Linked DNA regions of Homo sapiens: region 2 is linked to region 1. The links come from fine-mapping of genetic effects on gene expression. Tissue or cell type: kidney cortex. Region 1 holds a variant in brackets; the other region holds the start of a gene. All regions are shown on one strand. Distances are from middle to middle.

Region 1 (2,758 bases):
GTTTTTGGTCCTTTCATTACCCTTCTAATATTTTATCATTAGGCTGAGCGGATTATTAGGGGGAATATTATCATTGCTAGTGTATCCTTTTTATCCCTTACCTTACTTGGGGTATTTCCCATTTTTAGTGTGAGGCTCAATTCCCCTTGCTAGAAATGTCTTGCCTATTTTTAACCCTCAAGATACCCCAACCAGGGAATACTTCACCGCCCCACCTCCTCCGTGTCTTTTCTTACCTTGATATGTCCTGATCAAGGAATACCACCACCCCCTGTGGCTTCTCTTACCTTGGTCTGTCCCAACCACCAAGGAAATACTTTGCTGGCTCCCAGGCGTTTCCTTCCTCGGTCTGTGCACAGAGTTGCCTGGTCACTGTGGTGTGTGAGGATCCTTTCCCCTGGGTCGCCGGCTGGTTTCTTTCGACATTGCTGAGTCCAGGTTTATTTGTCACACCAGGTGAGTCTCGATTCCTGACTCTTGAGGCCACCGCAACAAGGCAGTGGGGCGTGAGAGAGGAATAGAGGCCACCCCTAGAGGAGAATAGCTCCCCATATGGGCCACGAGATTGTTAGAAACAAATGCCTGTTCCTTGGTGCTGCAGAGAAATAGCACTTGAACATAAATTTAATTTTCTCAGCCAGGTAATTTTTACTTCTATAGAAGGGTGCGACTCGTGGTTGGAGTAATGGCGAAAGCACACCTGAACAAGGGGAGGGAAGCGGTTCGTATTCCTGGTGCAGGTAGTCCCTGCTGTTGTGTCATTCCCCTATTGGCTAGGATTGGACCGCACAGTGTAAGCTAATTCCGATTGGCTATTTTAAAGAGAGCAGGGGTACAAGCTGGAGTGACAGGGTGAGAAGTTTGGCGGGAGGGGTGGTTACAGAACAGTTGACTCAGGATGATTCAGGTCAGAGCAGGTGACAGGGGTGACTCAAGATGGAGCAGGTGACCAGGGGTGACTCAGGACAAAGCAGGTGACCAGGGGAACAGATGTGAACTACTGATTAGAACTGGCAGGAAACTTGTTTACTGAAACTAGAGGCAAGCGGGGCAATAGAACCAGGAAGTTAGACTTTAAAATGGAGAATAAAGAGAGCTGAACATACTGACATAGTGATTCTTTGAAAAGAAACTTGGAGTTCACGATCTTTAACAAGAATATCTAGTTCTTCCTGATTTAAGCCAGGAGGGTTGTATCTTTCCAGGAATTTATGCATCTCTGCTAGGTTTTCTAGTTTATGTGTGTAAAGGTGTTCATAGTAGCCTTGAATGAGTTTTTGTATTTCTGTGGTGTTGGTTGTAATACCTCCT[A/G]TTTTGTTTCTAATTGAGCTTATTTGGATTTTTCTCTTCTTTTCTTGGTTAATCTTGCTAATGGTCTATCAATTTTATTTATATTTTCAAAGAACCAGTTTTTGTTTTATCTTTTGTATTTTGTTGTTGTTATTTAAATTTCATTTAGTTCTGCTCTGATCTTGGTTATTTCCTTTCTTCTGCTGGATTTGGATTTGGTTTGTTCTTGTTTCTCTAGTTCCTTGAGGTGTGACCCTAGATTGTCTGTTTGTGCTCTTTCAGGCTTTTTGATGTAGGCATTTAGGGCTATGAACTTTTCTCTTAGCACTGCTGTATTAGTTTGTTTTCATGCTGCTGATAAAGACACACCTGAAACTGGGAATAAAGAGAGGTTTAATTGGACTTACACAGTTCCACATGGCTGGGGAGGCCTCAGAATCATGGGTGGTGGCAAAAAGCACTTCTTACATGGCGACGGCAAGAGAAAAAATGAGGAAGAAGCAAAAAGGGAAACCCCTGACAAACCCATCAGATCTCGTGAGACTTATTCACTTTCATGAGAACAGCACAGGAAAGACCGGCCCCTGTGATTTGATTACCTCCCCCAGGGTCCCTCCCAAAACATGTGAGAATTCTGGGAGATGCAATTCAAGTTTAGATTTGGGTAGAGTCACAGCCAAACCATATCATTCTGCTTCTGGCCCCTCCAAATCTCATGTCCTCACATTTCAAAACCAATCATGCCTTCCCAACAGTCCCCCAAAGCCTTAGCTCATTTCAGCATTAACCCAAAAGTCCATGGTACAAAGTCTCATCTGAGACAAGGCAAGTCCCTTCTGCCTATGAGCCTGTAAAATAAAAAACAAGCTAGTCGCTTCCTAGATACAATGTGGGTATAGGTATTGGGTAAATATAACTGTTCCAAATGGGAGAAATTGGCCAAAACAAAGGGGTTAAAGGGCCCATGCAAATCTGAAATCCAGTGGGCCAGTCAAATTTTAAAGCTCCAAAATGATCTCCTTTGACTTCAGGTCTCACATCCAGGTCAGAGTGATGCAAAAGATGGGTTCCCATCGTCTTGGGCAGCTCCACCCCTGTGGCTTTGTAAGTTACAACCACCCTCCCAGCTGCTTTCATGGGCTAGCATTGAGTGTCTGCAGCTTTTCCAGGCACATAGTGTAAGCTATTCATGGATGTACCATTTGGGGTCTGGAGGACAGTGGCCCTCTTCTCACAGCTCCACTAGGCAGTGTCCCAGTAGGAACTCTGTGTGGGGGCTCCGACCCCACATTTCCCTTTGGCACTGCCCTAGCAGATGTTCTCCATGAGGGCCCTGCCTCTGCTGCAAACTTGTGCTTGGGCATCCAGGCGTTTCCATACATCTTCTGAAATCTAGGCAGAGGTTCCCAAACCTCAATTCTTGACTTCTGTGTACCCACAGGCTCAACACCACATGGAAGCTGCCAAG
Region 2 (2,758 bases), 47 kb after region 1:
GGTCCCTCTGGGAGAACTCTCTCCCTCCAGCCTCCCTGCAGAGTCACCCAGGGAACTGAATCACAGCACAAGTGAAATGGGAAAAGTTCCCTTATCCCCCTCGCAGGGCCTGCAATGGGGGTGTGGCTCGCTTCTTTGGTACCCTGCTGCTCAAACCTCTAGGGGGAGCATGCAGATGGGCAGGTTGTGGGGCTTCAACCCCACGGCAGTGTCTAGGGGTGAATGCTTACAGTTCCTGAAGCCCCAATGGGTGTGTGTTACAGAGCGCTCTTTTAGTTTTGCTATCTGTAGGCAGCTTGTGTTAATCAGCTCGATTAGATCCTCTGCCTTATCACAAGGACAGAGGGCTTTCTGTATCCCAGGGTTTTTGCCTTGGTGTACTGGAGGAATCAGATCACACGTGGGCTTAGGGACCGAGTGCAAGTTTTTATTGAGTGGAAGTAGCTCTCAGCAGATGGGGGAGCCAGAAGGGAGATGGAGTGGGAAGGTGAACTATCAAGATAAAATCAGTCTACTACTCCATAACAGAGGTAAGGAAGAGTATGCATGGAATACAGGACATCCTTTAGAGCATCTCTTAGTATTACCATGCCCTTTGATTAAGGTCAATGGGAAACTACAATAGCGCAATCCAGGCAGGACTACAAATAGCCCAGACCCCTCAGGAATGAAGGTTTGGGTCACTCCACCAGGAAAAAAACCACAACCTGCTGAGGTGCTTGCTGAAGGCAAAGGGAATACAGAATGGGTAGTAGAAGAAGGTAATCATCAATACCACCTATGACCATGTGACCAGCTGCAGAAATGCGGACTGTAACTATCATGAGTATTTCCTCCTTCTTTGGCTAAAAACATGTTTGTGCATGTATACACTTGTACGAAGAAAATATATCCATTTTATTTCCTTTTCCTTTATCATGTGACATAAGATTTACTGACTTCATATCAACATTTAAGTATTATTAACTTTATGTAATAATATTTGGGTTGGGGATTGGTGGGTTTCCAGTTGTACCAAGGATAGTTGTATTATTTTAGGCATAATTATGACCTTATTATTGTCTTTATTTGAAGATTATGTATGATCTCAGGAGATGTGTATGGGTTCAGCTTGACAAGGGGTGGACTTACCATGGTTAATACTGAGTGTCAACTTGATTGGATTAAAGATGCAAAGTATTGATCCTGGGTGTGTCTGTGAGGGTGTTGCCAAAGAAGATTAACATTTGGGTCAGCGGGCTGGAGAAGGCAGACCCACCCTTAATCTGGTGGGCACCATCTAATCAGCTGCCAGCGAATATACAGCAGGAAGAAAAAGGTGAAAAGGCAAGACTGGCCTAGCCTCCCAGCCTACATCTTTCTCCCATGCTGGATGCTTCCTGCCCTTGAACATCAGACTCCAAGTTCTTCAGTTTTGAGACTTGGACTGGCTCTCCTTGCTCCTCAAGCTTGCAGACAGCCTATTGTGGGACCTTGTGATCATGTAAGTTAATACTTAATAAACTCCCTTATATATATATATATATCCTATTAGTTCTGTCCATCTAGAGAACCCTAACACAAGTGTTTTCTTCATTTTCCTTCATATTTATGAAGTGTGCTTTCTTGCCATCCTTTCCAGACTCATCACCTTATGTTATTAGTTGACTTTTTAAAAATCATTATTATTATTTGAGATGGAGTCTCGCTCTGTCACCCAGACTGGAGTGCAGTGGTGTGATCTTGGCTCACTGCAACCTCCATCTCCCCAGTTCAGCCGATTCTCGCGCCTTAGCCTCCTGAGTAGCTGGGACTGCAGGTGTGGGCCACCACGCCTGGCTAATTTTTGTGTTTTTAATAGAGATAGGGTTTCACCGTGTTGGCCAGGCTGGTCTCAAACTCCTGACTTCAAGTGATCTGGCTGCCTTAGCCTCCCAAATCGCTGGGATTACAGGCATGAGCCACTGTGCCCAGCCTCTAACTCTCTTTTAACATAAATTAATTCCTCTTCCTATATTTGTTCTCAGTGCTATTGACTTCCTGAAGAAACTGTGTCAATTCTCATGTAGAGTTTTTACACTAGGGATACAGTCACTTGCTTCTTTATACTTCATGGGATACCTTGTAAGTCTCCAGTGCATCACACCTGGAGGCATATGATGTCTGCTGGTCTTGCTTTTAATGATGCTAAGATCTATCTTTAGGTTCAGGCAATGGCAACCTTACCCTTCACTGAGAAGTTCTCCATCAACCTTTCACTGAGTGATTTTGGCATCCATTGAAAACCATTGCTTGAATCAGTTATTTTCTTAGGGGCTTAAAAAATGATAATTTTCTGATTCTAATTTTTTCTTCATGTAGTAGCTGAAATTCTTCTGCATAGAAGAGCTTTCCTTCATTCATTTTGGCTATTTAATTACCAGAAAATGCAGTTAGGCATAAAAAATGCTTAATTCTTTTCCTTTAATTAACAATTTTTAGAGTAATAAGTTGGTGCCCCAACTTCCCCAACGGTGCCCAGTAACTTTTATTTTCTTTCTGTATCTTCTTTTCTTCTCCTGCTCTTTTTCATCTGCTGGCTAGAAGTAGGGTACTTCAATACCCTAGGAGATGGCAAGACCTCATGAAGGAAGTTGCCTGGGTCCCTGAATGACTACATGGAGCTAATTCCTTCCTGTGACTTGGGGAAGAATGGGACTGTGATGGGAACAAGAAATGAGCTTTCTTAGTCACAACCCACTGAGATTGTGATGGTTTGTTACAGCATTGACCCTATCCT

Evidence for each region. PIP is the estimated chance that this variant, and not a neighbour inherited with it, causes the effect.
Region 2: LINC01226 starts here. The variant in region 1 is the best candidate, but not a certain one, in a credible set for the expression of LINC01226 in kidney cortex (GTEx, PIP 0.76).

What each region holds. Positions count from the first base shown.
Region 1 is chr1:31,470,779-31,473,536 of GRCh38, forward strand. It overlaps LOC124903900 (a long non-coding RNA gene), which reads right to left and starts at 698. Exons shown (of 2, transcript XR_007065585.1): 1 at 288-698. LOC105379772 (a long non-coding RNA gene) reads left to right here and starts at 340. Exons shown (of 3, transcript XR_001737618.2): 1 at 340-456. RefSeq lists an enhancer at 1-1,183. The variant A/G (reference allele first, on the strand shown) is at 1,312.
Region 2 is chr1:31,517,354-31,520,111 of GRCh38, forward strand. It overlaps LINC01226 (long intergenic non-protein coding RNA 1226), which reads left to right and starts at 1,082. Exons shown (of 3, transcript NR_027085.1): 1 at 1,082-1,483.